4 linked regions of the Homo sapiens genome follow. The protein of the gene in region 1 purifies or fractionates together with the protein of each later gene. This does not show direct contact. Each region holds a gene or a part of one and is shown in the gene's direction. Other genes may lie near its edges. The genes, in order: CRTAC1, MTO1, TRAPPC10 and ZMYM6.

Region 1 (8,168 bases):
ATCATGTCCTCCTTCTTCCAGCATCCCTTTCCTGGGGCTGCTCTGCCTGCAGAGTTTCCCTGCAGCATGCGCTCACAGCTCAAGGTCTTCTGAACAAACTCTCTGGCCATCTGGAAGACTCCTTTCTGCATCTGTGATGGCTCTGGCTCTGGCCCTGACTGAACCATCCCCCAGGGTTTGTGGCTTCTCTAAAAGAGTTCCTGTCCAACTTTACCCCTAACCTACCTCCCCTTGAAAGTCCATCCTATGCATCTGCCTCTTACAAGCCACAAGTGCATCTGAAACCCAACGGCCATGTGATAAATGTGTACTCCTTGGGAAAAAGGGACGACCCCTCCATACGACTTGGTTTGAGAAGGGGTTATTTCCTCATACCCCCTTTAGCTCCTCATTTCTTTCACAGTTTGTGGTTTCCCATTTTCAACTATTGCTGTTTTTCCACCCCCTTACAAAAAGATTCATTTCTTTTGAGACAACCAAGCCTAAAATACACAATCCCTTATCTACAATTCCAAATCCCCAAATCTCTGAAAGTCAAAAGGATTTTTGTTTTGCAAGTTTGATGCCAAGACTCATCTGGTAGCAAAATCTGACCTAAACTGATGTGAAGTTACTTTATCCTCACACCTGCTTAGTGTAAACTTCATATATTTCATTGCAGAAATATTAATGTGTCTGATTTCAATATGCTGCTCAAAGCTTCACTGAGAATGTTTATGTATGGTGCCTTTCTGAATTCTAAAATGCCTCTGGCCTCAAGGGCTTCAGATAAGGGTGTGAGGAACTGTACCAGCCTCTCTGTTCTCCTGTGACAGAACTCTTGGGACAGAAGCATCTCTAAGATCTGGTGTCTTGACTTCTCACCCGGAGAGAGAGAAGATAGCCAAGTAATCTTCTAATGTAGAGAGAGAATTAACAAAGTCATTTGTCAATGAAAGGACATGGGGTCTGGAGGTTGTCTTCAGTGTTTCCTACAGTTTTTGTCCTGTCCTTAACTTGTTGCATGACTGTTAGCAACTTGCGTAAAGTCCAACCTCTCTGATCCTGGACTTTAGAAGAAAACTAGCTCCTGAGAACTCCTGCTCCAGTGATGTTGATGATGACTAACACACACAATACATCTTGAGTTTTTAGAAAATGAAGTACTGTACAGCTTTAATAGTATTTTTAAGTAAATAGGTTTAATTGGAATAACTCAGCAAATATCTAATGTGTGTTCACTCTGTGCCCAGTTTCATGCTGGGTTCTGTGAGGTAGTCAACTGCAAGGTACAAACTCTGGACTTCAAGGGGCTCATATTCTGATAGGGAGGCCAAGTATCACTGAGTGAAAAAAAGCTAATGTGCATCACAGGTGATAAGATGGTGTAGACCTGCAGGAGAGCTGAAAACTGCTGGCCAGGGCAGTTTTGGAAGGTGGCGCAGGAAGGAAGACTTGGTTTGGGTATGAACAGATGAGAAAACAATTTAAGCACGTTCCCCAGGTAAGAATGAAGAAGTCTGTGGGGGAACACTCTGAAGAAAAAACAACTTCACTGGGGTCAAAGGACTGGAGCCTGAACAAGATGCATGGGGTAAGGGTGTGCTGAAAATGTGTGTATTAGTCAGCTCAGACTGCCATAGCCAATACCACAGACGTGGAGCTTAACCACAGAAGTTAATGTTCTCACAGTTCTGGAGCCTGGAAGTCCCAGATCAAGGTGCTGGCAGGTCTGGTTTCTGCAGAGGCCCTGCTCCTGGCTTGCAGATGGCCTCCTCCTGTTACTCAGGCAGGCTTTCTCCTGAGGATGCACAGAGAGAAATGGGAGATCTCTGGTATCTCTCTCTCTTCTTACGAGGACACTAGTCCTATTGAATTAGGGTCCACCCTTATGATCTCATTTTGCCTTAATTGCCCCTTTAAAGGCCTTATCTCCAAATGCAGTCACACTAAGGGTTAGGGCTTCACTATGTGAATTTGGTCCGGAGAGGCACAATTCAGTCTATAACCGTGTGCATGTGCCTCAAGAAAGCTGTGTTTGGGCAATGTGGGAGGACAAGAGGTCTCTCACGGGATTGGGGGTGGGGAAGGGCTGGAGCTCTGAGCAGACACTGACATGAACTGAGCAAATGGACATCGAGGACATCAGAGAAATGAGAAATTTTCCAACCAGGACTGCCTGGCCCACTGGGCTAAACCCTCACAAGTTCAAGTGCTGAAGCCAGATTGTATTCCCTGGAGCACTTCCTGGCTGGAACATCTCCATCATTTCCTGCATTTTTCTGTCCTTCCCTAGCACCTTTGGTCTGTTGTAACCTTACCTGGCTAGCTGCAGGAAAGTGTGAGATTATTACAGAGTTATTTTGCACAGAGCACCTATTCACATCTGGTTGGCTAATGCTGATAATTACCGTGCTGGTTACTAAATCTGTCGGGTCTGGGTGAGGTGAGGCGCTACAGCTGGGGCTGCTGTGCACAGCTTCACCGGAGAAGAGAGAGGTGAGAACAAAAACCAAGAAAGGTGTGCTCAGATGTTTGGGATTGAGTGAAACTGGTTAATTACCAGTCACTTGCTGTCTCCCTGAGTTGGAGTTTCTGGCTAAGGAATGCTCATAGATCAGACATAATATGACAACCTGCAACTTATTTCCACATTAAGAGGGTGGCGGGGACCAAGATGCAGAGAAAGTGTGGAGACAGTCTCTCAGGTGCCAGAGCCTTGGCCAGATGACTCAGATGCCCTCAGAACAAGGTGGTGGCATGTTCCAGCAGGGTGCAGAGCCAACTGGACTCCTTATGCAGAGAGCTGGGGATCAGATATGGCCTTGGGGGCAGAGTCTATTTGCCGATAGATGAAGGTTCTTAATCAGGGCCCTAGATTAAGTTTTAATGATCCACGAACCCTCCTAAAGTTGCATGTCAACATGTGTGTATGTGAGTGAGCATTTTTATAAGCAACAGATCCATAACATTTATGAGATTCTTGAAAGGTTCTAAAGGGTCTGTGATCCCCAAAAGGAGGGTGATTATAAACTACTGTCCTAGACCCCTGAAGAAACAGGTTGACATTGGACCGAGCCCCAAGAGACTCAGGGTTCCTAATGATCCTGAAAGTATACTCAAGGTGTGTGTGTGTGTGTGTGTGTGTGTGTGTGTGTGTGTGTGTGTAAATGTGTGTGTTTGTATATTTTTCTAGAAAAATGATTCAGTAATTTTTGCCAGATTTTCAAAGGGGCCCACAACCTTACAGGCTTGATGGGGGCTCAAAAAGCCAGAAAGTTTGTCTGTGCCTAGCTATTTCTTTTCAGAGGAAGATCACAGAGACCTGAAAACAGAGCCCAGACTAGGTCCTGGTAGTTCTGCTCAAAATCTGTGGATAACAGGGGCCAGAGGCTGGATGTGTGGCCCTCTATAAAAGAACACATTCAAATCATTCTAAGAGTCAAGGGCCCAGAAGCCAGACTAGTGGGTGATGGTCACAAAAGCGTCAACGGATGGGAAAACAGTCCTAGCTCCTTCCCTCTCCGATGGTGGATTCCCAAGTCTTTCTCTTCTGTGGCCCCTTTACCTGGCTTTCAGAAACCCAAAGACCTCACTCATGGAAGCTCAGAATTCATTCAATAAACACTGAGCGCCTACTATGTGCCAGGCTCTATTCTAGGCGTAAAATAAAGGATTTGCCTTCAGAGTGTGACCCACCAAGGCCAGTTTCCTGCCTGAACAGGGGTATTTTGAGCATTGCTGATCAAGTGTGTTTTTCTGGCGCTTAGCACCCCCATTCCCCTGGTCCAGAGAGGCAGAAACCATCCCCCCACCACCACCAAGGCAGCGGGTTGGGGGCGAGGAGAGGCGGGCAGTACCTGTGATCAAAGCGGTGAGGGAGGCTAGTAGGACGCAGGCGGCAGGAGCGGGTGGGCCAGGCCCGACTCGGCCACTGCTGGGGTAGGGACTAGGTGGGATGGGGTGGGGGCACTGCTGGTGGGGACGGGGTGGGGTAGAAGCGGCGCTGCCCGCAGCCGCCTGGGCCTCTGCGCGCCTGATCTCCGAGCTGCGCTCGCCCGCTCCCCGCCTGCGGGGGCCGTCGCGGAGCCCTGCTCTCCATACTGAGCAGTCCCCGGGAGGTGCTCGGACACGTCCCCAGGCTGGATAAAGATCGGCTCGGCTCTAGCTCCGTAGTCGAAATCTCGCCATCAGCGCGGCTCGCTCGGCCGCTTTGGCCCGGCCCGGCGACGCCAGATCGCTATCCTGGGGGGAAATGGGAAGGCAGTGCAGCCGCTCCCGCCTCCACCCTCGGTCCTGCGCGCAGGGGTGGCCGCGGGGTCCTGGGGCTCGCCGCCCTCCCCTCCCCCTTCGCGTTCCTTCCCTGCGCTGCCTCCCGAGGGACCCTCGCTTCCCTCCGGCCTGGGGCCCCCAGCGCCCAGCCAGGCGCCCTCTCCCCTCCTCGCCAGGCCTCGCTGCCGCCTGAAGGTTACGCGACGCAGTGGCGGGGCGCGGGGGGCGCCCGCCCTCGCCGCCGCCTTCGCCGCCGCCCACCCCAGTGGCCGCCGCGCCGCGCCGGGCCAGCCTGGCTGCCGGCTGCTGCCACCGCAATCCCGGCTCCTAAATCAGCGCGGGGAGGCGCTCCCTCCCCACGCCCGGCTCTCCGGGCTCTCGGGGCCGCGATTGGCCGCGCCGGCGCCCCCCACCCCGGGCCCCCGGCTCCAGCTGCCGCGCCATTGGCTGCGGGCCTCCGCCAGCCTTTACATAAGACCGGGCGCGCTCGAGTGGAGTTGTATAAAGCGAGCGCGCGGCGTCGGGGCGGGAGGCTCGAGGCCAGCCCGGGACCGGGGCTGGGAGCAAGCAGGCGGCGGCGCCGGCGGCAGAGGCGGCAGCGAGCGCCCGCTTCCCACGCCCCTAGGCGGCGGGGCCGAGAGCGGGAGGATGGCTCCGAGCGCTGACCCCGGCGTGAGTATCTGCACCGGTGCCCCCCACCCTAAGGCGGAGAAAGTTTCTCCAGCTCTGCGCGCCCCCCCGGATCCGCCCGCAAGGGTGGCGGGGACGCCGCCCGGGAACCCGGGAAGACTGGGATCGCGAAGGCGGCGGCTTCGCTCCTAACTTGCTGGGAGGCGCTGGACTCGATTGGCGCGCGGAGCCTCCCCCGCGGGCTGGGGGTGAGGCGGCGGCCGGGTTGGAGGTGGCGGAGAGGTGGGAGCTGATGTGTGGGGGCGACAGCCAGCAGCTGGCAGAGAAAGTGTTGGGGGCGCACTGGAGGTCAGCTGTCAGGGGAGGGGGCCTCTGGGGCCTGGAGGGGGCGGAGCGGGTGAGGAGGGATGTGCCGGGCTATCGGGAGAGTCTCCCAGTCAGCCAGGCTGAGACCCGGGCCTGGGAAGCCACTGGCCTCGGCCGAGTGCCTACGCTTCCAGGCTGGGGAAGAGCCCCGCGGGCTGGCTCTTCCTCCCCTGGGAAGCCGAGTTCCCGGGCACAGCGCTGGGTGGCAGAGAGCTCCGGGAGCCAGCCCCGCGCGCGGCGTAGCTGCTAGCCGCCTTATGCTGGACGAGGTGTGGTCTTCCCTTCAGGCTGCCTGAGGCAAGCCGGCTTCAGGCATTCCAGGGGAACCCTGAGTCCTCCTCGACCCCGTGGGGGCACTTGGAGGCTTTGATGGGGCAGCCAGGCCGGGCTTGGGGGCATGCCCAGCAATGCAGCGCGCTTCTTTGCAGTACAGTAGTTGGGAGCCCTGGTTAGTCCCGCTTCTGCAGAAAGCAACTCAAGAATCCAAAGTCATCCCAGCCTGGATGGAAGCCTCCCAGAGTGGCGGGGAAATTCTCCTAGGGTTGAGAGCTGGGGGGGCTTCCTCCAGGAATGACTAATGAATATTGCTGCTGCTGCCGCCGCCGCCGCCGCCGCCGCCGCCGCCGCCGCCGCTGCTGCTGCTGGTGGGTGCACCCAGTGTGGCTTCTGCACATCCCAGGAGATGCTTCCGTTCTCCTGACAGGACACATTCTTGAGTTGCACTTGAGGTGTCTTCTGGGATGGGTGCAGGACTTTCCACGTGAAGCCAAGTGGAAAAGAAGGGAAGAGGGTCCCAGGACAGGGGACAGTTCTATAGTGTTTTCTTGAGTCAGGGGAGAACTCATGTGGGAAGAGATAAGCGATTGACGGAGATTTGGAACCCAGACGACTTGGGGCTGGAGATGTCCAAGACTGAATTAGAGCTCATTGAGAGTCACAGAGTACCTCACCCTCAGCCATGGGGGAGAGGTGGAGGCTGGAAAAGTGGGAACATGGTGGCTGTTCCAGCATGGTTCTTGAGAAAATGTTCTCTCTCTCTCTCTGACTTGGTTAAGAACATCCTTCTGGCAGTAGGTCCTAAAGTCAATTTAAGAGGTAATGAAGGGAGTTGAGGGTCTTGATGATGGCACAGAGGACCACAATTAGAACATTTCCATTTCCGGTGGGTACTAATGGACTCTGGAAAAGGTCGAAACGGTGTGTAGGGAGTCTGGGGAACCTGCTCTGTGGCTGCTCATTTGAGCCTGAATCCTCCACCTTATCCCATCCCTGAATGTAGGTGGATGTTCAAACTCCTAGGGTACCTGCTTCAGCCTGGAGATATTTTATGGGTGCTATCAATCTATATCCCAACCCCCAGCTCCATCGTTGTCTGCTGCAGTCAACATTTTTCTGCTGCATTTCCCAAGACCTTCTCTCCACTGGGGATTTGTGCAGCGAAATACCTGCTTGTTGCTCTTTCTTCCCTTCTCCATCTGGGCTGCACCTGGTGTTCTGAACCCTGGTGTTTATTCCTTGGTACCTTGATGTTTGGTTAAGACGTCCTATGGCTGCGCAGGGGTGCCCCTGTAAATCTGTGGACCAATGGCCTGTGTAATTCTAGGGAGTGCAATAGACTTCTATAGAAAGAATACCACCAACCGGGAAGGCAGTCCTACTAAACAGCTTGTGACAGCCTCTCATGCTCAAGCGCTCCCTTGCTTCCGTGCTGAGGCGGTGGAAGCCTAAAGGTGGAGCAGACTCCTTGGTGTCCAGTAGGGGGCGCCAAAGGTACCTGGCTCAGGACCACTGACTTTCTCACTTCTTGCCCTTTACTGGCTGTAGCAACTTAATGCTTTAAGGCAGCTCAGGCTACAGCCTTCAACCACCACCATCGTACTTGGAATCCTTCTACCACATGCTTCCTGGGCTTCAGGTGGTCCTGTGACCTCGGGTGCTATGGGGCAGGTGCAAGCACAACATTCCAAGGAGACAGAGCTGGTACACAGCCCCACCCTCTCTCGGGGATCATTCCTTTGTGCTTGGTGCCGCTGTGTTCTTTGAACTCTTTAAGGGTTCATGGAGTTCCAGAACATTAGAGCCAGAAGCAAGGAGCCTTGGAGAGCATCTCATCCAACCCCATTCCATCCCAACACTCACATGCACATTTAATTTACAGATGAGAAAACTGAAGCTGGATAAAGCCAAGGTCACATGGCTATTTGGTGGAAGACATGGAACTAGGCCCTAGGATTCCCACTGCTCGATTCAGAGCTGTTTCCACTCCAGCGGCCTGCTTCCTCTTCACTATAAAGATGGACATACTTTCTCTATACAGTAGGCACTCATAGTTATTGACTGACCAGGCTTTGGTAAATTAATACATCCCATACAGTTGGGGAGATTCTATTTTGAATCTGTTTTTCAGAGTGAGGAGGTGAGGAGAAAATACAGTTCTTGTCATGGACATACACAGGTCATAGAAATTCCTAATTATTCTTTCCCTGCCTCTACAATCTCGTCTCATTATTCCAAGTGGTGTTTTAAGCAAAAGCCATGCAAGTCCAGGTTTCAGTCTGTGCATTTAGGAGTCAGAAGTGCCGAGTCCCTCACTGTGGTCTTGGAACCCAGGTCTGGAGCGCCAAGGAATGTTGGCGTGGGGTCTCTCTGCTTGCAGTCACACCACTGCTGGTGAGACCTCCCAGATTCAGATTATAGATGGATTGGAGAGTTTCCAAAGAGTATTTGCCTATTTCCCCCACCCTTGCTGCTCCCAGCTCAAGGTCAGAGTGCTAGGACATTCTATTTTTGCCAAATCCTTATGTTTGGACTTCTTCGGTGACCTGCAAGATACTACCATTTCCATTGCCCTTTCTTCTGTTCCGAGAGCCTGGCTGTCGACATCTGAGCTGGGCTCTGGGAAACAGGTTTGCTGAGTGGCC
Region 2 (7,750 bases), on another chromosome or scaffold:
ATTACTAAATTAGTTTTACTTTCATTTCCTTTTCTCCCCCGACTTTCTTTATTTTCCAGATTTAATGGTTATATTGTTTTTATTAGTATTTATGTTTATACCCTTAAATTGTTTATTTTTTTATTTTTGAGACAAGTTCTCTCCCTCTTTCTTAGGCTGGAGTGCAGTGGCATGATCACAGCTCGCTGTAGCCTCGACCACCTGGACCCAAGTGATCTTCCTGCCTCAGCCTCCTGTGTAGCTGGGACCACAGGCATGTGTCACCACCCCTGGCTAATTTATTATTTTTTTTTGTAGAGATGGGGGTCTCACTATGTTGCCAGGACTGGTCTTGAACCCCAGGGCTCCAGTGATCTTCCTGCCCCAGTCTCTCAAAGTGTTCATATTATAGTCATGAGCCACTGAGCCTGGCCGATTTAATTTAATATCTTTAAATGCTATTTTGTGATCCTGTCCATATTTTATAGGCCCAACAATAACAATTTTTTTGTGGTAAAATATACAAACCATAAAATGTACCATTTTAACCATTTTTAAGTGTACAATTCAGTGCTATTAAGTACATTGACAGTGTTGTGCACCCATCACCACCAACGGTCTCTTGAACTTTTTCATCATCCCAAATTAAAATTCTGTACCCATTAAACAAAAAGTCCCCATTACCTGAAGAATAAACCTCCATTTTACTGTAAGGTAGAGCTATCTGAGGACAAAACCTTAATGTGTAAATTTCAGCTGTTTCTTTCATTTTCTGTTCCAAGTTTCATTTCTACATTCCTCCTCAGTTCTTATTCTCAGTTCTCTAATTTCTGAGCCTTTGCAGGGCAAATTAGTTCATTCTCATTGATATATCTTCTCTTCAGATATTAATACTTAAGTTATAGCTATCTCCCCTCTGCTAGATGAGTTACCATTCTTCCAAACACTTTCTATCTTTCAAAAATACATTGAAATTTCTCATCTTCTGACTGGTTCTTTTTCATTACTTGTCCTTTTGGTTTTATACCTTTTTTATTCCCCTATTTAATTTTCTTTGAGTTTTAGAAGGGAGAAGAAATGAGAGGTTGTATGCCATATTTATCCTGAAGTCTAAAATTAATTAATTTTTTAAATTAATTGAGACTAACTTTTTAGTGCTGATATGATTTTAGGTACATGTGAATTGGTGATAACACATTGTATTCTCTCTCCTAGATTGCTTAGATTGAGATTGATAACATATTAGCCTTCTTACTCATTTAAAATTCTTTGTCTGGGGTAGGGGAAATGGGAAGATACTGCTCAAAGGTTATACATTTTCAGCTGTAAGTTGAATAAGTTCTAGCAATCTAGTGAGCAGTATGGTAACTGCAGTTAATAATAATGTATGATATACTTGAAATTTGCTAAGGGAGTAGATCATAAGTGTTCTCACCACACAAAACGTGTAACTATGTGAGGTGATGGTTATATTAATTAGCTTGATTATGGGTATCATCACAGAAGGTATACTTGTATCAAAACACCATGTTGCATACTCTAAATATATACAGTTTTTTATATGTCTGTTATATGTCGATAAGTCTTGAAAAAACAAAAATATTAAAAAAGATTCTCAAGTTTTTAAAGACTGATAGTTTTTCTGTAGTTGTAATGTAAAATAGTCACATTCCATTTTGATCCATGGTAACAATTTAAAAAATGACTTTAGGCCGGGCGCGGTGGCTCACGCCTGTAAGTAATCCCAGCGCTTTGGGAGGCAGAGGTGGGTGGATCACCTGAGGTCGGGAATTCGAGACCAGCCTGACCAACATGGAGAAACCCCATCTCTACTAAAAATATAAAACTAGCTGAGCGTGGTGGCGCATGCCTGTAATCTCAGCTACTCGGGAGGCTGAGGCAGGAGAATTGCTTGAACCCGGGAGGCGGAGGTTGCAGTGAGCGGACATTGCACCACTGCCCTCCAGCCTGGCGATAGAGTGAGACTTCATCTCAGATAGATAGATAGATAGATAGATACATAGATACATAAATACATAGATACATAGATAATGACTTTATTCTTTTTTCTTGTTATTTAGTGGATGGAAGCACAGTATATGCAGAGAGTGTGATTCTGACTACTGGGACATTTCTGAGAGGCATGATTGTAATTGGATTGGAGACGCATCCAGCAGGACGTTTAGGGGATCAGCCTTCTATAGGATTGGCTCAGACACTGGAGAAGTTAGGGTTTGTGGTGGGAAGGTTGAAGACTGGGACTCCACCCCGAATTGCCAAAGAGTCCATTAATTTCAGTATTCTAAACAAGCATATACCGGACAATCCATCCATACCATTCAGCTTTACCAATGAGACAGTATGGATTAAGGTAAGATACTTTACGAAAACCTGGCTTACAGCTGGTATTGGCTATTCACAGCAGGAAGTACTGTAACTTTTTTTTTTTTTTTTTGGCAGCAGTTCACTTTATAGCACTATTGCTTATAGTGCAAAGAAATGATTTTTTTTTTTTTTTTTTGAGATAAGGTCTCACCTTGTCACCCAGGCTGGAGTGCAGTGGTACAATTATGGGTCACTACAGCCTTGACCTCCTGGGCTCAAGTGATCCTCCCACCTCAACCCCCTTGAGTAGCTGAGACCATAGGCATGAGCCATTGTGCCTGGCTTTTTAAAATTTTTTTGAGAAATGGGGTTTCACTATGTTGCCCAGGCTGGTCTCGAACTCCTGGGCTCAAAGGATCCACCCCCCTTGGCCTCCCAAAGTGCTGGGATTGCAGGTGTAAACCACCGAACCCAGCCAAAGAAGTTATCCTTTTTTTTTTTTGTGGTGGAGACTTGCTCTGTCACCCAGACTGGAGAGCAGTGGCACGATCTCAGCTCACTGCAACGTCTGCCTCCTGGGTTCAAGCAGTTCTTCTGCCTCAGCCTCCCGAGTATACAGGCACGCGCCACCACACCCGGCTAATTTTTATATTTTTAATAGAGACAGTGTTTCACCATATTGGCCAGGCTGGTCTCGAACTCCTGACCTCGTGATCCACCCATTTCAGCCTCTCAAAGTGCTGGGATTATAGGCGTCAGCCACTGCACTCAGCCTAAAGAAGTAATCTCTAAAAGGGATTAGCTAACTTGGCTAATTGGGTATTTCCCCATAAATCGTAAATTTCTTTTTTTTGTTTTTTTGAGACAGTCTCAGTCTGTCGCCCTGCTGGAGCGCAATGGTGAAATCTTGGTGCACTGCAACTTCCGCATCCTGGGTTCAAGCGATTCTCCCACCTCAGCCTCCCTAGTAGCTGGGATTGCAAGCACCCGCCATCATGCCTGGCTAATTTTTATAGTTTTGTAGAGACGGGGTTTCACCATGTTGGCCAGGCTGGTTTTGAACTCCTGACCTTAGGTGATCCGCCTGCCTCAACCTCCCAAAGTGCTGGTGCTGGGATTACAGATGTGAGCCACTGCACCCGACTTTTTTTTTTTTCTTTTTTTGAGACGGAGTTTCGCCATTGTTGCCCAGGCTGGAGTGCAATGGCGCAATCTCGGCTTACTGCAACCTCCGCCTCCCAGGTTCAAGCAATTCTCCTGCCTCAGCCTCCTGAGTAGCTGGGATTACAGGCTCCTGCCGCCACACTGGCTAATTTTTGTATTTTTAATAGAGACGGTGTTTTGCCATGTTGGCCGGGCTGGTTTCAAACTCCTTACCTTAGGTAATCCACCCTCCTCAGCCTCCCAAAGTGCTAGCATTACAGGCGTGAGCCACCGTGCCTGGCAAATCTTAAATTTCATTACTTTTATAACCTTACATATTTTGTAAATTAAGCTTTTATTTTAAAAAATTTTTTCATTTATTATTATTTTTAATAGAGACAGGGTCTCGCCATATTGCCCAGGCTGGTCTCGTACTCCTGAGCTCAAGCCATCCGCCCACCTCAGCCTCTCAAAGTGCTGGGATTACAGGCATGAGCGACCGCACCTGGTCAAATAGGCGTTTTTTGTTTTGTTTTGTTTTGCTTTTTGAGATGGAGATTCAGTCTTGTTGCCCAACCTGTGGTGCAATGGCACGATCTCAGCTCACTGCAGCCTCCGCCCCCTGGGTTCAAGCAATTCTCCTGCCTCAGCCTCCCTAGTAGCTGGGATTACAGGTGCCCGCCGCCATGCCCAGCTAATTTGTTTTTGCATTTTTAGTAGAGACAGGGTTTCACCATGTTGATCAGGCTGGTCTTGAACTCTTTTTTTTTTTTTTTCTTTGAGATGGCATTTCACTCTTGTTGCCCAGGCTGGAACGCAACAGCACAATCTCGGCTCACTGCAACATCCACCTCACGGGTTCGAGCAATTCTCCCGCCTCAGTCTCTTAAGTAGCTGGGATTACAGGCATGTGCCACCACACCTGGCTAATTTTGTATTTTTAGTAGATGGGGTTTCTCCATGTTGGTCAGGCTGGTCACGAGCTCCCGACCTCAGGTGATCCGCCCGCCTCGGCCTCCCAAAGTGTTGGGATTACAGGTGTGAGCCATCGCACCCAACTGGTCTCAAACTCTTGACCTCAGGTGATCCACCTTCAGCCTCCCAAAATGCTGGGATTACAGGCGTAAGCCACCATGCCCGGCCTAAATTAAGCTTTTGAAACGATATCAGGTGGTGCTGCTGGAAAGGCAGCCGCCCCCTTGCCCATTACACAATGCATTTTTATGGAGAACCCGACACTGAACCATTCTTAGATGACCTGCTTCTGGGGTGGGATTTCAGACATAGCAGAGCAACTTCCTCGCTGCGATCTATTGAAAGTTAACCCTCAGCTGGGCGTGGTGGCTCATGCCTGTAATCCCAACAGTTTGGGAGGCTGAGGCAGGTGGATCACTTGAGGTCAGGAGTTCAAGACCAGTCTGGCCAACATGGTGAAACTCCATCCCTACTAAAAATAAAAAAAAAATAAAAAAATTAGCCAGGCATGGTGGCTCATGCCTGTAATCCCAGCTACTCGGGAGGCTGAGGCAGGAAAATTGCTCGAACCTGGGAGGCAGAGGTTGCAGTTAGCTGTGATTGTGCCACTGCACTCCAGCCTCCAGCCTGGGCAACAGCAAGACTCCATCTCAAAAAAAAAAAAAAAAAAAGAAAGTTAACCCTCAACGCATATAATTTTATTTTAAAAAGACGGAGAAAAACAAAAAAAAGTAAGCAACATCGAGAAAAAGTTGTAAGACTTTTCTCAATGTAAGAGTTTTTTCACAACAAACTCCTATAAACCATTGAACGTCACTCACTGTTAATATTTTACCATATTTATCGCTATAGATATATCAATTTATGTCCATATTTACTGTGTAAGATGGTAATATACACATTTATTCTTATTCTTTTTTTTCTGGAATATTTGGGAGTAAATTGCAGAGATGATGAGCTCTTACCTTAAGCCTATATCTCAACTAAGCACAGAGACATCCTTTTATATAACCCTTATGCAATGATGAAATTCAGAGTACGATGCAGGGACAATAAAATTTAAATTTTTTTTTTTTTTTTGAGACGGAGCCTCACACTATCCCCCAGGCTGGAGTGCAGTGGTGCAATCTCGGCTTACTGCAATCTCGCCTTCTGAGTTCAGTCAGTTCTCATGCCTCAGCCTCCTCAGTAGCCGGGATTACAGGCACCCGCCAACACGCCTGACTAATTTTTGTAGTTTTAGTGGAGACAGGGTTTCACCATGTTGGGCAGGCTGGTTTTGAACTGCTGTTCTTAAATGATCTGCCCGCCTTGGCCTCCCAAGTGTTAGGATTACAGGCATGAGCCACTGCGCCTGACCAAAAAATTTTTTTAAAGACAGAAAAGAGTCCAGGCGCAGTGGCTCATGCCTATAATCCTAGCACTTTGGGAGGCCAAGGCAGGTGGATCACTTGAGGTCAGGAGTTCAAGACCAGCTTGGCCAATATGGTGAAACCTCACCTCTACTAAAAATACAAAAATTAGCTGGGCATGGTGGCATGCGCCTGTAATCCCAGCTACTCAGGAGGCTGAGGCATGAGAATCGCTTGAACCAGGGATGGGGAGGTTGCAGTGAGCTGAGATTGTGCCACTGCACTGCAGCCTGGGCAACAGCAAGACTATGTCTCAAAAAAAAAAAAAAAAAAAAAAGAAATTCGGAGAATTTAACACTGATACAGTGCTATTATCTAACATAAAGTCCGTAGTCACATTTTGCTAATTGGTAAATATTGTCCAAAGCAGCTTTTTTTTTTTTTTTGAGATAGGATCTCACTGTGTTGCCCAGGCTGGAGTGCAGTGGTGCAATCTCAGCTCACTGTAACCTCCGCCTCCCAGGCTTGGATGATCCTTTTACCTCAGCCTCCCAAGTAGCTGCGACCACAGGTGCTCACCACCATGGCTGGCTACTTTTTGTATTTTTTGTAGAGATGAGTTTTTGCAGTGTCACCCAGGCTGGTCTCAAACTCATGGACTGAAGGGATCTGCCTGCCTTGGGCCCCAAAAGTGCTGGGATTACAAGTATGAGCCACCAAGCCTAGCCCAAAACAACCTTTTTATTCCCAATCAAGGGTCATGCATTGCGTTTAATTGTCATTTCTCTTTAAAGTCTTTTATCTGGAACAGTTTGTCAATCTTTAATGGTGCCGACATTTTTGAAGTGTAGAGGCCACTTTTACCTATCTCTCGAGTTTTAAAAAAATGTGGCGTGGCATGGTGGCTCACACCTGTAATCCCAGCACTTTGGGAGGCCAAGGCAGGTGGATCACAAGGTCAAAAGATTGAGACCATCCTGGCCAACATGGTGAAACCCCGTCTCTACTAAAAATACAAAAATTAGCTGGGCATGGTGGCATGCCCCTGTAGTCCCAGCTACTTGGGAGGCTGAGGCAGAATTGCTTGAACCCGGGAGGCAGAGGTTGCAGTGAGCAGAGATGATGCCACTGCACTTCAGCCTGGCGACAGAGCAAGACTCTGTCTCAAAAAAAAAAAAAAAAGTATATTGTATGTGTTTAAGATTGAGGATGAAGAATTGGCCAGGCACAGTGACTCTCACCTGTAATACCAGCACTTTGGGAGGCCAAGGTAGGAGGATCACTTAAGCCTAGGAGTTCAAGACCAGCCTGGGCAACATAATGAGACCCTGCCTGTACAAAAAAAAAATAATTGATGGTCCTAGTTTCTGGTGAGTGTTATCCTGATGTATGGCTTCAAATATTCTGTTACTTTGAGCAAGATACTTTTATATATTTGCTTTGGTAGTATGCAAATTATGATAACCCTTTCTTCTTTTTTGAGACAGAGTCTTGCCCAGGCTAGAGTGCAATGGTAATGGCGCAAGCTTGGCCCACTGCAACCTCCACCCCCTGGGTTCAAGCGATTCTCCTGCCTGAGCCTCCCAAGTAGCTGGGATTACAGGCACCTGCCACCATGCCTGGCTAATTTTTTGGATTTTTTTAGTAGAGACAGAGTTTTACCATGTTGACCAGGCTGTTCTCAAACTCCTGACCTCAGGTGATCCACACACCTTGGCCTCCCAAAGTGCTGGGATTACAGGCGTGAGCCACGGCGCCCAGCCCAAACAAAGCAAGGAGTCCCTGGGTGGGCACAAAAACACTTTTTTTTTTTCTTTTTTTTTTTTTTGAGACGGAATCTCGCCCTGTCATCCAGGCTGGAGTGCAATGGTGCAATCTCGGCTCACTGCAACCTCCGCCTCCCAGGTTCAAGTGATTCTCATGCCTCAGCCTCCCGAGTAGCTGGGATTACAGGCACCCGCCACCATGCCCAGCTA
Region 3 (7,750 bases), on another chromosome or scaffold:
CGTTCTGTGAAAACAGCGGCTATTTCAGCTCGCAGCACCGAGCGCTCCCCGTGTGCTTTCCCTGAGCCAGCTGTCATTCTGCAGCAGAGACCCAGAGAATGTCAAGAACACAAGCACTCAAGAATGGAAATAACTCAAACGTCCTTCAGCTCGAGAGCGGTTAAACTGGCACATCTGATTCCTCCTCAGCAGTGAAACAGAAGGGACTGTTGACACACGCAGTGCTGTGGTTGGATCTCAAGGGCATTATACTAAGAGAAAAACGCCAGTCCTATAAGGAGGTGTACTGTGTGATTCCATTTCTAAATGACATCCTCAAAATGCCAGCCTCAGAAGGAGAGCGGGTCAGTGTTCCACGGAGCAGTGGGAGGCAGCAGGAGGCCGTCCTCTGTGGTAATGGAGAGTTCTGGGCCAGGGCCGCTGTGGTTGTTACACGAATCTACACATGTGACAAATGCCATAGAATTAGACCCAAAGAATGCCTGCGAAAGCTGCTGAAATCCAGTGGGGTCTGCAGCCTGGTTCACTCTGTAGTGAAATCCAGTGGGGTCTGCAGCCTGGTTCTATCTGTATTGAAATCCAGTGGGGTCTGCAGCCTGGTCCACTCTGTAGTGAAATCCAGTGTGGTCTGCAGCCTGGTTCTATCTGTATTGAAATCCAGTGGGGTCTGCAGCCTGGTCCACTCTGTAGTGAAATCCAGTGGGGTCTGCAGCCTGGTTCTAGCTGTATTGAAATCCAGTGGGGTCTGCAGCCTGGTCCACTCTGTAGTGAAATCCAGTGGGGTCTGCAGCCTGGTTCTATCTGTATTGAAATCCAGTGGGGTCTGCAGCCTGGTTCACTCTGTAGTGAAATCCAGTGGGGTCTGCAGCCTGGGTCACTGTATGGTACCAGTGTCAGCTTCCTGTGTTACACGAGATGGCACAGTTGGGTGAAGCTGGTGATGAAGGTATGTGACCCCTCTACTACTTTTACAACTTCTTGTGAGTCTATAAACATTTCACAATTAAAAAAAAGTCTACTCAGGAGCTGAATTTAATAAAATGAGCACTTTTGACTGCTTTGTGAAGCGTGGCATTTTTTTTTTTGTTTTTTTGCTGTGAGTTCATGGTAGTAAAGAACATGAGTGACATGACTGCGCAGTCTGGCCCGAGTTCATGCCATTGTGGTTGCCCCAGCAGCGCGAGGTCAGCAGCGTAGAAAGGCAGCAGTGTGAAAGCTATGAGCTTGCGGGTGCCCTGAGAGCCACACTCTGAGAACTGTCACTCCTTTGCCTTCCTCCTGACACTCCTAGGGCCTCTGCATGTCCTGTAGTAGCTCCTGTCCTCAAAGGTCCCCCATCCCCAACTACAGGATGTCCACCTCCCTGAGCCCTTCTCTGCTGCTCGTGGCCTTCTGGTCACTCACTCCCCCTGGGCGGTTGCTCGGTATCCTCATGATGGGAAGCTGTGACCTCTTTACCAGGTCTACTGCTACTGGATGGCAAGGATCCTGTCTTGCTTACTTTCATATCTCCAGGGCTAGTCCCAGTGAATGATCACTTAAGTGTTTGAATTGCATTGAATTACATGATGGTTGTGTTTTAATAATTAATGTTAATAATAACACCTGCCATATATTAAGACACTACCATGTCCCAGGAGTGGTACTAAGTGCTTTACATACAAGGGGTCTTCAAAAAAATCATGGAAGATACGTTATGAAAAAACTATGCATGGATTTCAACACTTTTTGCACCAAAATAAGCTCCTACTCACTGAGCAGGATCTAGTTTGAGGCACTAAGAAGGATAAGACATCAGTTTTAAAAGAGCCCCTATCAGAGCAACATGAATTCTGCTAAAATTAAATCAAGAACCAACATTGGCCGGGTGCAGTGGCTCACGCCTGTAATCCCAGCACTTTGGGGGGCTGAGGCAGGCGGATCACCTGAGGTCAGGAGTTCAAGATCAGCCTGGCTAATATGGCGAAACCCCATCTCTACTAAGAATACAAAAATTAGCTGGGCGTGGTGGCAGGCGCCTATAAGCCCAGCTACTTGGGAGGCTGAGGCAGGAGAATTGCCTGAACCCAGGAGGCGGAGGTTGCAGTGAGCCAAAATTGCGCCACTGCACTCCAGCCTGGGCAACGAGCAAAACTCCGCCTCAACAACAACAACAACAACAAAACAACCAACATCAAATTTATGGTGAAGCTTGGGTGGAAGAATGGTGAAATCATTGATGCTTTATGAAAAGTTTATGAAATTCTTTGGACAGTGCCCCAAAGAATTAGTAGTTTGCAAATGGATATCTTGTTTTAAGAAGGGACGAGATGATGCTGAAGATTAAGGCCATAGCAAGCAGACCATCCACATCCATTTTCAAGGAAAAAATTCACCTTGTTCATGCCCTAATTGGAGGGAACTGACAACAGCAGAAATGACAGCCAACACCGCAGACATCTGAACTGGTTCAGCTTATGCAATTACGCCTGAAGGGTGAGCAAGCGTTCCACTCAGTGGGTGCCAAAACCCTAGTACCCAGGTCCGTGGCCGACCAGAGCAGAGCTTCCCATGGAAACTTCAAACACACGGGATCAAGATCCTGAAGCATTTACTCAAAGAACCATAACAGGAGATGCAGTGTGGCCTTCCCAGTACCATCCTGAAGACAAAGCAGACACGGCAATGGCTACCAAGAGGTGGGGTGGCCCCACCAAAGCAGAAGCAGACTGGTCAAGAGCAGAGGCCACAGCAACAGGTTTTTGGGATACTCAAGGCATTTTGCTTGTTGACTTTCTGGAGAGTCAAAGGACAGCAGCGTCTGTGTATTATGAGATTGTTTTGAGGAAGATAGCAAGAGCTTTGGTAGAAAAACCCCTGGGGAAGCTTCACCAGAGAGTCCTCCTCCACCACGACAAAGCTCCTGCTCATTCCTCTAACAAGCCCAACTTCGTGAGGGTTTCTATGGGAAATCATGAGGCATCCACCTTGTGGACCTGATTCGGCTCCTTCTGACTGATTTTGGTTTCCTGATCTTAAGAAGTCTTTAAAAGGCACCCATTTTTATTCAGCTAATAATGTAGAGAAAGACTGCGTTGACATGGCTAAATTCTCAGGCCTCCCAGTTCTTCAGGGATGGACTAAATGGCATCGTAAGCAATGGCATCATTGCTTACAAACATGTCTTGACCTTGGTGGGGCTTATGTTGAGAAATAAAGCTTATATTTTCTGTTTTCATCTTTGGATTCCATTTTTGCATGAACTTTTTGTAGTTCCCTCATACGTATTCTCTTTCCATCCTTAAAAAGCAGCTCTGTGAGGCTGGTGGTGGTCTCAGCACTATACAGCGGTCATTGAGCCTGGAGGCCTTGGGGTGCTCTTCTGAGTGGCAGAGTTGGCTTCAGACCCAGTGGTCTTGGATACTGCCACTTACCAGACAGAACCCATTAACTGCCAAAGTCACCATACTGTGGAAGATGACACAAAAATTTGAAAACAAAATTAAATCATTTATTAACCTCACAGGAAAAATGCAGTTTTCTGTACACGTCCAGCATAATTCATTCTAATCCAGAACTAATTGAAATTGGACTCAATGAAATAGGGGTTGCCACCGTGAAAGTGCATGGCTTTATCTTCAGGCGCAGCTACAAGGCACTGGGCTCTGTGTCCGCAGTGTTTTGTCAGACAGCGTTGGGTGAGAGGATTGGGTAACGACGGCCGTGACTCTCGCCTGAGTACTGGAAGGCCCGTCCTGGATGACACATCGCTTCCTCTCGTTTCAGTTGTCGACAACAGTAGCAACTGGGCAGTGTGTGGGAAAAGCTGCGGTGTCATCTCCATGCCAGTGGCTGCTCGGGCCACTCACAGGGTCCACATGGAAGTGATGCCGCTCTTCGCCGGGTATCTCCCCCTGCCCGACGTCAGGCTGTTCAAGTACCTCCCCCATCATTCTGCACACTCCTCCCAACTGGACGCTGGTAAGGACTTTGGAAGAAAAAGTTTACCTTCAGTATTTGAGCAGGTGAGCACTTTGTGCGAGAGGTGATAAACTTATGACTGAGCAGGTTGGAGAACTAGCGGCGTGTTTTCAGTGCCGGTAGAAACTGGTACTAGAAGCCTCATCCGCTGTTAGAATCTTAGGCACCTGCTCTGAAAGCCAAGCCTCTGTGCACAGAGTGCTCTGTAAAGGGGCAGCCTCGGGTGGCATTCTGCACGTTCAGCCTGGCTCCGTGTGGCTTTGCCCGTCCCCAGGTGAGTGTCGGCGCAGCTTGGGTCTAACTTCCTGTGTGTTTTGCAGACAGCTGGATAGAAAACGACAGCCTGTCAGTAGACAAGCACGGGGACGACCAGCCGGACAGCAGCAGCCTCAAGAGCAGGGGCAGCGTGCATTCGGCCTGCAGCAGCGAGCACAAAGGCCTACCCATGCCCCGGCTGCAGGCACTGCCGGCCGGCCAGGTCTTCAACTCCAGCTCGGGCACACAAGTCCTGGTCATCCCCAGCCAAGATGACCACGTCCTGGAAGTCAGTGTAACATGACAACGCCAGGGTGAACACACGCCACTTCCCAGCTAGGAGTGCACTTTATGGGACTGTGACTGGACTCTTCCGTTCTGGCTCCAGCCAGACCTTCAGTGGTCCTGCCTGGCCGTGGGGACATCAGAGAGTGTCATCACGCAGCTGGCCAGCTGAGTTCTGTTGTTGTTTTCATGCCGCCTGTGATCTCAGATTCCTGCTTTTCTCACCCCGTCCCCATGCTGGTGTCCGACGCCGCTTACTCAGAGCCCTGGCCTCCCTCCCCCTACCTCACACGCTGCTCATGAAAGTTTCCACCCACGCTGTCTCCACGGAACAGCCTCCGTCTGCTGGCTCTTCGTGGAAGGCCATTTGTCTTTCAGGTAGACACTCAGCAGCCCTCACGGTCTTAGTGACGTGTGTGCCTTTCTGGTCACACAGCTGCCCAGTTTCCTGATCGGGGTGGATTTGTGTCCCCTAAGGGGTAAAACAGCCGTTTACCGCAGATCCTCTCATTGTGCTTTTCTAGAATAACACCCTTCTAGGGGAGGCGGGTGGGGGAGGGAGGGATCATAACCCCTTCTGTGCCTTGGGATGCCGGAGCTGGGGGACCTGGAGGCCCATCAGCCGGAGCCACGTGAAAGGTACTGAAGAAAGCTGAGACCCGGCTGTGAGGAGCGCCTCAGCGGTGAGGTGGTTTAGGGATAAATGTTTCTGGAACCCTGTGGTCCCCCATAATGTTGATAGAATATCATATGCACTGGGAGTTAAATATATTTAATTTAATGATCATTATATATGTGGGGGTTAATATGTTGTTTTTCTGTCCCTTTAAAGTCTTTACATGTAATTGTAGCTGTATAATCGTTATTTTTCTTTTGCATCTTAAGTCTTAGAAATTAAGATATTCCATCGTGAGGATGAGAGAGGTCCTCAGTGTGTTTTTGGTCTGGTTGTAGGGAAGGACTCAAGTCCTGGAATGTCCTCCACTGGTCTACTGAGTTGCAGTCACACTGTTCCAATGGATTATTTGCTTTCGGTTGTAAATTTAATTGTACATATGGTTGATTTATTATTTTTAAAAATACAGACTAACTGATGTAATGTTTATGTATAAGTTGCACCAAAAATCAAGGACAAAAATAAGTGTGTTTGTTTTTACAGGTGTGAAAGTCACAGCTTGTAAATAAGTGTTGTATGTATTAAACCTTTTCCAGTTCTCCAAAGCGATGTATTTTTGTACACTTGAAATAGAGTACTCTTAATTTACTGGGCAAATGTGCTTGGAATTGAACTTGACAAGATTAGCTCAAGCAGATAGAGTCGGGTCCAGCAGTGGGTGGCCCTCGTGTGAATCCCCGTGGATGTGCAAGTTGTGGAGAGAAGGAGCACCGGGTTCCTGCCCAGCACTGTGCTTGCGGGAGGCGGTGGGGCATGGGAGGAAGGAGGCACAGACCGGGGAAATATGACAGCCGTCATTTCCAGTATTCTCTGTGTTGTCTTTTAGCTCATTCAATAAATAAAGGTGGTGTGATTTTTTTTTCCTCCTGTCTTTTTCATTTGTAGAAACTGGAGACGTGTAAAGAAGATAAATAATTGTGTAATTAAACTTTCCAGAAATTTATCTTCCTCATGTGCAGTTTAACAAACTTGGTCAAACTAGTTAGCAAATTAGAACTTCAGAATCTAATGATAGTTTAGGGTTTCTAAAATAAGGTTTTTTATTGTAAAAATTGACGATTGCCCTGCATTTCTACCAAGTCCTGTGAATAAAGAGATGGGAGATTTGATTCCGTCAGAAGAGACTGTAATCCGTGTCGTCAGCCTGGGAGCCTTCCCCAGTGTAATGTAGCTTTCTCTCTTACCTTCTGGAAGAGGGAATGTTTCATTTATTACTGTTTGATTTTCTTGTATCTGGTTCTACTCCCAGGATGAAATTATCCAACTACATATATATTTAGAGGAAGAAAGTGAAGGGGAAATTTAAAATGTTTACGGCGCTTAATTGCCTGGAAATGAAATGAAATCAAATTTATCAGTTTTTTTCCCCCTAATTACCCAAAAGATCTTTTGCAAACTATGTTACATGAATGCTTCTGCCTCTTTAAGACAAAGAAGAATGTCACCCAAAATTGTCATTTTTTTCTTAATGTTCATCATAAAAGTCCTAAAAGAGTAACTGTAATTGGATGTTTATTGTTTTTATCTAAAGTAAGGTGTATGTGTTTGAGACAAGCTGGTTTTGTTGATAAAGAGATGTTAAATAATTGTGAAGCCAGATATGCAATGTGTATCTGAAAAGCAAGGAATTTGCAGCCGTTTTACAAATATCTGTGGAACATGTAAATACTGTCAAATGGAAAATAAAATAAGTTATAATTTTTGTGAATTTCATGGGATGTCCTATGATTGGAAAAATTATAACTCTTCTGATTCTAATGTGGAAATTGTTGTATTTAATCTGAAAATGACTTTACCTACAACAGTTCCATTGTCAGCACAGCCTAGGAAGGTCAGATCCTGTATTAATTACTCTTAGTGGAGATGCCAGATATCCCATACAGAATTAGCAGAGAAAATACACACAGGCTTCTATTCAAATTTTCTTTAGTGCTTAAAATTAAGTTTTAAAATGAAATCAGACACTGCAGGTTTGTATATAAAATGAAAAGCTATACTACTTTTTACAAAAGGGCAAACTGGGCTGATGTAAATGTTTTACTTTCAACTGTGTTCTTTAAAATAAATCCTACCTGGTTTTTAAATTTTATTTTTCATGAAAATGCTCCTTTCTCTACATTTATTCATCCTATATACATCAGGCTGTAAGACCCCCCCCAGTCATCATTAATACAATGTGTTGGGATTCTGTGACTGGAAAAGGTGACAAGTTGGTGACTTTGACACTGCAGGTATTCCATTTTCATGGTTTACTATGAAAAGTCATTTTTCATATTATGTAATATATTGTTAGATTAAAACCATTGTATTAAGACTTTAAAATGTAAGCATTGTAATTCTGAAAATACACATTTTAAGAAGAAACTATTTTGCACTGGATCTTTTGCTGCGACATGGTGTGACAACAGTATGTAATGTGAAGATTTTATTGTTTTATCTCCCTAGTCCTTGTTCCTGACTCTTGGGCATAGATTATTTGCCTTTTGGGAAACATTCGGATTATTTTTTTTTTTTTTTTTTTTTTTTTCTCTGAGACAGTCATGCTCTGTTGCCTAGGCTGGAGTGCAATGGCGC
Region 4 (7,750 bases), on another chromosome or scaffold:
CTCTAGAATGTAAGGCTCATATGAGCAGAACTTTGTCTTGTTTTCTGCGGTATCTCCACGGCTTAGAACAGTGCCTGGCTTGTAGTAAACATTCAGGAAATAAATATTGAGTGAATACACATGTTTTAAGTACATTCCTCCACTCTGTTGTTTGCCCTATAACTTTGTTTTATAAAGACCTTTGTTTACAGAAGTTTTTTTTTTTTTTGGATTAAAAAACTTTACTTTTTGGCCGGGCACGGTGGCTTACGCCTGTAGTCCCAGCACTTTGGGAGGCCAAGGTGGGTGGATCACGAGGTCAGGAGATTGAGACCATCCTGGCTAACACGGTGAAATCCCATCTCTACTAAAAATGCAAAAAAAATTAGCCGGGCGTGGTGGCGGGTGCTTGTAGTCCCAGCTACTCAGGAGGCTGAGGCAGGAGAATGGCATGAATCCAGGAGGCAGAGGTTGCAGTGAGCTGAGATCATGCCACTGCATTCCAGCCTGGGTGACAGAGCGAGACTCCGTCTCAAAAAAAAAAAAATTAATTTACTTTTTAAGAGCTTTATTATGATAGGCAGAATAGTAGCCCCCCAAAGATGTCCATGTCCTTGTCCACAGAATCTGTGAATATGTTACATTACATGGCAAAGGTGAATTAAGGTAGCAAGTGGCATTAGGGTTCCTAATCAGCTAACCTTAAAATAGGGAGATTATCCTGGATCATCTGAGCAGTTTTAAATTTTGAGGTAGTCAAATGTATCAGTCTTTTCTACTTTGATTTACTCTTTTGTGTTTTATTTAAGAATACTTTGTGATCCCAGCTGGGAGTGGTGGCTCACGCCTGTAATCCCAGCACTTTGGGAGGCCGAGGTGGGCGGATCACGAGGTCAGGAGTTTGAGACCAGCCTGGCCAACATGGTGAAACACCATCTCTACTAAAAATATAAAAAATTAGCCAGGCGTGGTGGCGCACGCCTGTGGTCCCAGCTACTCAGGAGGCTGAGGCACAAGAACTGCTTGAACCTGGGAGGCGAAGGTTGCAGTGAGCTGAGATTGTGTCACTGTACTCCAGCCTGAGTGACAGAGTGAGACTCCGTCTCAAAAAAAAAAAAAAGAAAAAAGAAAAGAATACTTTGTGATCTGTTTATTTGAAAGTTCTCTAGTGACTTTAGTTCTTTTTTTTTCCCTGAGATCTTTAATTGATGTGGAATATATTTTTGTGTATGGTCTGAGGTTGGATCTAATTTTTCTGAGTAGCCAGTTGTCCTAATCAGCAAGATTAACAATTGTTTTCATTGTTTTGATCATACTTATTTTAAAAATATATATTATATGTATAATTTTTATATTTATAGTTTATAAATATATTTTTATATTTATAGTTTATAAGTATATTTTTATATTTATAGTTTATAAGTATATTTTTATATTTATAGTTTATAAGTATATTTTTATATTTATAGTTTATAAGTATATTTTTATATTTATAGTTTATAAGTATATTTTTATTTTTATAGTTTATAAGTATATTTTTATTTTTATATTTACAAATATATTTTTATATTTATAGTTTATAAATATATTTTTATATTTATAGTTTATAAATATATTTTTATATTTATATTTATAAATGTTTTTTAAAATCAGTAAATTAAACTAATACTGATTGGGAGAAGTAGGAATCTGTGTGTATTTTCCAAGGTGACTTTTTTATTGCAACCACTCTTTCAGAGGAATTATATTTCTCTTGATGTATATGAACTTTCAATTGATAGCAATTATAGTCAGTGATAAGGTACTAAAAAAAATCTTTCTTTGGTTTCTGAATTTGCTTTTAACTAGGAAAGTACACAGGAAGATGCTATGAAATTTCCATCTTCCCAATCTTCCCAGCCTTCCAGGCTTTTAAAGAACAAAGGCATATCATGCAAACCCGTCACACAGACCAAGGCCACTTCTTGCAAACCACATACACAGCACAAAGAATGTCAGACAGGTATGTATCCTTGTGCGTTCCCATGTACAAAGCTTGTTTTCTGGCTTGTTTGTTTTTGTTTTTTAAGAAAGGAAAAGAAAATAATTGACAGAGTCTTAAATGTGAAAACATTCCTTTTCTTGGATCACATGCTTTGAATACTTAATTTATTGCTTTCATAATTATTAACACTAATAACCAGCTATCATAACAAGCTATTATAATTACTAACATACAGTTTTAGTTAAAAGCATTAGTGATTTAACCTGTTTTTTTTTTTAAATACTGCGAATTCAGTTGTCAGTTGCTAACAGTACAATTAATTTATCTGAGGTATTGGTGACGATGAAAATTGTTTGAGCTTTACTTGAAAAAGTTGTGAAGTATTACTTTTAATCCCACTACCCTTAGATTTTCAATTGCTTTAATAGTCTACTGTGCCTAAAGCACTGGGTTTTTTTTTGTTTGTTTGTTTGTTTTTTTTGAGATGGAGTTTCACTCTTGTTGCCCAGGCTGGAGTGCAATAGCGTGATCTTGGCTCCCTATAACCTCTGCCTCCTGGGTTCAAGCGATTCTCCTGTCTCAGCCTCCTGAGCAGCTGGGATTACAGGTGCCTGCCACCATGCCCGGCTAATTTTTGTATTTTTAGTAGAGACGGGGTTTCATCACTTTGACCAGGCTGGTTTTGAACTCCTGACCTCAGGTGATCTGCCTGCCTCGGCCTCCCAAAGTGCTGGGATTACAGGCATGAGCCACCGCCCCTGGCCTGATTTTTGTTTTTAATAATAATTTTACTTCATAGAATACACTATATTTAAAAGCTTAGTCTGTCAACAAGTAGTAAGTTTTTATGTAGGGTACCTTTATTTTGGTAGAAGTCAAGCAGAATCCTGTTTTCCTTCCTCAGGAAATTTATTTTATATTCCTATTAAAACAATATATTATTTGTACCTGAATTTATATTATATACACGTTCACACATGGAGAGTACTAAAGGATCTGTGGGCATCTATATGTGTGTATGTGTGTGTGTATGTTTGTGTGTGTGTGTGTGCTTATGTTTTGAGTTCTAGATTAAATATTGAATTGTTGGTCAGACGTGGTGGCTCATGCCTATAATCCCAGCACTTTGGCAAGCCAACATGGGCGGATCACCTGAGGTCAGGAGTTTGAGACCAGCCTGACCAACATGGTGAAACCCCATCTCTACTAAAAATACAAAATTAGCTGGGCATGGTGGCACAGGACTGTAATCCCAGCCACTCAGGAGGCTGAGGAAGGAGAATCGCTTGAACCTGGGAGGTAGAGGTTGCGGTGAGCTGAGATCGCGCCATTGTGCTCCAACCTGGGCAACAAGAGTGAAACTCCGTCTCTTTTAAAAGAATAAATCTCGAATGTTTTCTAACAATCGAAATTACTTTTTCATTTGACATTGCATTGGAAACATTATTCCACAACAATATAAATTTAAATATACATTGAGATTATTTTTTTCCAATTTTTATTTTATTATGTTTATTTTATTTTATTCGGGGGTACATGTGCAGATTTGTTACCTGGGTATGAGATTCTTAACATAGATTTCAGTGTATATAATATAACCAACTCCGTTAAGATTGGAAATTTAGATATTTGTATTATAAGCAATGTTGGGTTAAGCTATGTTAATGGATCTTTGTCCACTTGCCTAATTATGTCCTTAGGATAAATCCTAATCAGTGGAAGTGTTGATTCAAAGACTATCATCTTTTTTTTTGTTTGTTTTTGTTTTTGAGACAGAGTCTATCTCTGTCACCCAGGCTAGAGTGTAGTGGCGCGATCTCGGCTCACTGCAACCTCCACCTGCCAGGTTCAAGCGATTCTCCTACCTCAGCCTCCTGAGTAGCTGGGATTACAGGCACCTGCCACCATGCCCAGCTAATTTTCTTTTGTATTTTTAGTAGAGACGGGATTTCACAGTGTTGGCAACGCTGGTCTCAAACTCGTGACCTCATGATGTGCCCGCCTCAGCCTCCCAAAGTGCTGGGATTACAAGCGTGAGCCACCGCGCCGGCCTATCATCTATTCTTAAGTATTTTGATACCTGTTGCCTAAATTGCCCTCCTGAAAAGTTACATCAATGTATGCTCCAACCAGCAGTGTTCAGGAGGATCCATTTCTCTACAACCTCACTGACACTGAGTATCAAAATTCAGAAAGGTTGAATATACAGTACAGTCAATACTAGTATACTCTTCATCCAGATTAATGAAATGTTAACTTTTTGCAATATTTATTTTCTTTTTTTTTCTGGATTGTTTGAAAGTAAAACATTATTTTTCTGTCTCTTTTTCTTCCTTTTCTTTCTTTTTTTTGAGATGGAGTTTCACTCTTGTCTCCCAGGCCGGAGTGCAATGACATGATCTCGGCACATTGCAACCTCCGCCTCCCGGGTTCAAGCGATTCTCCTGCCTCAGCCTCTCAAGTAGCTGAGATTATAGGCATGTACCACCATGCCTGGCTAATTTTGTGTTTTTAGTAGAGACGGGGTTTCACCACGTTGGCCTGGCTGGTCTCGAACTCCTGACCTCAGGTGATCTGCCCGCCTTGGCCTCCCAAAGTGCTGGGATTACAGGTGTGAGCCCCATGCCTGGCCTTTTTTTTCTTTTTCTTTAAAAAAATTTTTTGACACCAGTGTCACTCACCAATAAAAAATTTATTCTTTTTGTTTTTTTTTGAGACGTAGTCTCAAGAGTGCAGTGGTGTGATCATGGCTCTCTGCAGGCTCAACCTCCTGGGCTCAGGCAATCCTCTTGCTTTAGCTACCCAAGTAGCTGGGACTATAGGTGTGTGCCATTGCATCCAGCCAATTTTTTTTCTTCTTCTTTTTTTTTTTTTAATGTAGAGATGGAGTTTCGCCATGTTGCCCGGGCTGGTCTCTAACTCCAGGGCTCAAGTGACCCACCCACCTTGGTGTCCCAAAGCACTGGGATTATAGGTGTGAGCCACCCTGCTCAGCCAAAAAGTTTATTGTTAATTTGATGTGTATCATGGTCTTCAGCCCTAATTTCAATAACCTATTGGGTGCTTGGGATTACTTGTACATGTACCACATCCTACAGTTTTATTATACCTAGTGATCAAGCTTTGGGCAAAGGAGAAATTCAGTTTTCAGTAGCATCATTGGAAGTATTATGACTTGTGCTTAAACTTTTACCAGTGCATTCTTTTGATAAATAGAAATAGTAACAAAATATGAATTTTAAATATGTGGGGAGATACATAAAGAACATTGCTTATTTGTTCTTGAAAATAACAGTGATTCAAATATTTCATTCAGATTTACCTATGCCTAATGAAAAAAATGATGCAGAACTTGATTCTCCACCTTCAAAGAAAAAAAGATTAGGTTTTTTCCAGACTTATGATACAGAATATTTAAAAGTTGGTTTTATTATCTGTCCTGGATCAAAAGAAAGTTCACCAAGGCCACAGTGTGTCATTTGTGGAGAGATCTTATCCAGTGAAAACATGAAGCCAGCAAATCTTTCTCATCATTTGAAGACAAAACATTCAGAATTAGAAAACAAACCAGTAGATTTTTTTGAACAAAAATCTTTAGAAATGGAATGTCAAAATAGTTCTTTAAAAAAGTGTTTACTAGTTGAAAAGTCACTTGTGAAAGCTTCTTATTTAATTGCTTTCCAAACTGCTGCAAGCAAGAAGCCATTCTCCATTGCTGAAGAATTAATTAAACCATATTTAGTAGAAATGTGTTCAGAAGTTTTGGGTTCAAGTGCTGGAGACAAAATGAAAACTATTCCACTTTCTAATGTTACAATTCAACACAGGATTGATGAACTATCTGCAGACATTGAAGACCAGCTGATTCAAAAGGTCAGAGAGTCAAAGTGGTTTGCCCTTCAGATAGATGAGTCATCAGAAATCTCAAATATCACACTTCTTTTGTGCTATATTCGTTTCATTGATTATGATTGTCGTGATGTAAAAGAAGAATTATTATTTTGCATTGAAATGCCTACTCAAATAACTGGCTTTGAAATATTTGAACTAATAAATAAATATATTGATAGTAAATCTCTGAATTGGAAACATTGTGTTGGTCTCTGTACCGATGGGGCTGCAAGCATGACTGGCAGGTATTCTGGTTTAAAAGCAAAAATTCAAGAAGTTGCCATGAATACAGCGGCATTTACACATTGTTTTATTCACCGTGAACGTTTAGTGGCAGAAAAGTTGTCTCCATGTTTACATAAAATTCTTTTGCAGTCAGCACAAATTTTAAGTTTTATAAAGAGCAATGCATTAAATTCACGTATGTTAACAATTTTGTGTGAAGAGATGGGATCTGAGCATGTGAGTTTACCGCTTCATGCTGAAGTACGTTGGATATCAAGAGGGAGAATGTTAAAAAGATTATTTGAATTACGACATGAGATTGAAATATTTTTAAGTCAAAAGCATTCAGATTTGGCCAAGTATTTTCATGATGAGGAATGGGTTGGAAAGCTGGCCTACTTATCAGATATATTTTCACTTATAAATGAATTAAATTTAAGTCTCCAAGGAACTTTGACTACTTTCTTCAATTTGTGTAATAAAATTGATGTATTTAAGAGAAAGTTAAAAATGTGGTTGAAGCGCACACAAGAGAATGATTATGACATGTTCCCTTCATTTTCTGAATTCTCAAATTCATCAGGCTTAAATATGACAGACATCACAAGGATTATTTTTGAGCACCTGGAAGGACTTTCTCAAGTGTTCAGTGACTGTTTTCCACCAGAACAAGACTTGCGTTCAGGAAATTTGTGGATAATTCACCCTTTTATGAATCACCAAAATAATAATCTCACCGACTTCGAAGAAGAAAAGCTAACAGAGCTATCTTCAGATTTAGGATTACAAGCACTATTTAAATCAGTGTCTGTAACTCAGTTTTGGATAAATGCAAAGACAAGTTACCCAGAACTCCATGAAAGGGCAATGAAATTTTTATTACCCTTTTCAACTGTTTATTTATGTGATGCTGCCTTTTCAGCTTTGACTGAGTCAAAACAAAAAAATCTGTTGGGTTCTGGCCCTGCCCTAAGACTTGCAGTCACATCTTTAATTCCAAGGATAGAAAAATTAGTGAAGGAGAAAGAGTAGCAATATGCACATTGCTTAACAGTGAAGTCAATAATCCTGTGTTAAGTTTTGTATAAGTATCCTAAAAGATAATTTCCTAATGTGGATTTGTGTTTTCAGTGATTAAATGTTTTAATAATTTTTCCCTTTTTGTTGAGGAATTTAATAATTATGATTGTTATAAATAATTATGTATAATTATAATCTAGGGTAGAAAATTTAGTTATTTCATTAAATTTGGACTAGTGACAAAGACTGCAGGTAATGAGAAGCCCAGTTTATAATGTAACAGCACAACCTGGATGTTGAAACAGCTTGGCCTTTAGAAGCAAGTGGAACATTTCAGTCTTCTAGCCAACCAGCTACTTACCCCTGCAAGGTTGTGAGTAGGTGGAAAAGATAGATCTTTTTTTTGAGATGGAGTTTTGCTCTTGTTGCCCAGGCTGGAGTGCAATGGCGTGATCTTGGCTCACTGGAACCTCTGCCTCCTAGGTTCAAACAATTCTCCTGCCTCAGCCTTCCAAGTAGCTGGGGTTACAGGCATGTGCCACCATGCCCGTCTATTGTATTTTTTTTAGTAGAGACGGGGTTTCACCATATTGGTCAGGCTGGTCTCTATCTCCTGACCTCAAGTGATCCACCTGCCTCGGCCTCCCAAAG

The links.
Region 2: the proteins of CRTAC1 (region 1) and MTO1 purify together in Homo sapiens (affinity purification with mass spectrometry; 2 studies listed by BioGRID and IntAct, with this or other methods). This does not show direct contact.
Region 3: the proteins of CRTAC1 (region 1) and TRAPPC10 purify together in Homo sapiens (affinity purification with mass spectrometry; 2 studies listed by BioGRID and IntAct, with this or other methods). This does not show direct contact.
Region 4: the proteins of CRTAC1 (region 1) and ZMYM6 purify together in Homo sapiens (affinity purification with mass spectrometry; 2 studies listed by BioGRID and IntAct, with this or other methods). This does not show direct contact.

Annotation. Positions count from the first base shown.
Region 1 is NC_000010.11:98,027,204-98,035,371, reverse strand, and holds the start of CRTAC1 (cartilage acidic protein 1 isoform A precursor), read left to right. Parts: upstream 1-4,750; 5' UTR 4,751-4,899; coding exon 4,900-4,923; intron 4,924-8,168.
Region 2 is NC_000006.12:73,471,305-73,479,054, forward strand, and holds part of MTO1 (5-taurinomethyluridine-[tRNA] synthase subunit MTO1, mitochondrial), read left to right. Parts: intron 1-2,060; coding exon 2,061-2,350; intron 2,351-7,750. UniProt on the Homo sapiens protein: Component of the GTPBP3-MTO1 complex that catalyzes the 5-taurinomethyluridine (taum(5)U) modification at the 34th wobble position (U34) of mitochondrial tRNAs (mt-tRNAs), which plays a role in mt-tRNA decoding and mitochondrial translation.
Region 3 is NC_000021.9:44,099,013-44,106,762, forward strand, and holds the end of TRAPPC10 (trafficking protein particle complex subunit 10), read left to right. Parts: exon of another isoform or gene 1-67; intron 68-84; coding exon of another isoform or gene 85-164; exon of another isoform or gene 165-1,054; intron 1,055-3,765; coding exon 3,766-3,960; intron 3,961-4,280; coding exon 4,281-4,519; 3' UTR 4,520-7,540; downstream 7,541-7,750. UniProt on the Homo sapiens protein: Specific subunit of the TRAPP (transport protein particle) II complex, a highly conserved vesicle tethering complex that functions in late Golgi trafficking as a membrane tether.
Region 4 is NC_000001.11:34,986,465-34,994,214, reverse strand, and holds part of ZMYM6 (zinc finger MYM-type protein 6), read left to right. Parts: intron 1-1,827; coding exon 1,828-1,981; intron 1,982-5,279; coding exon 5,280-7,111; 3' UTR 7,112-7,750. UniProt on the Homo sapiens protein: Plays a role in the regulation of cell morphology and cytoskeletal organization.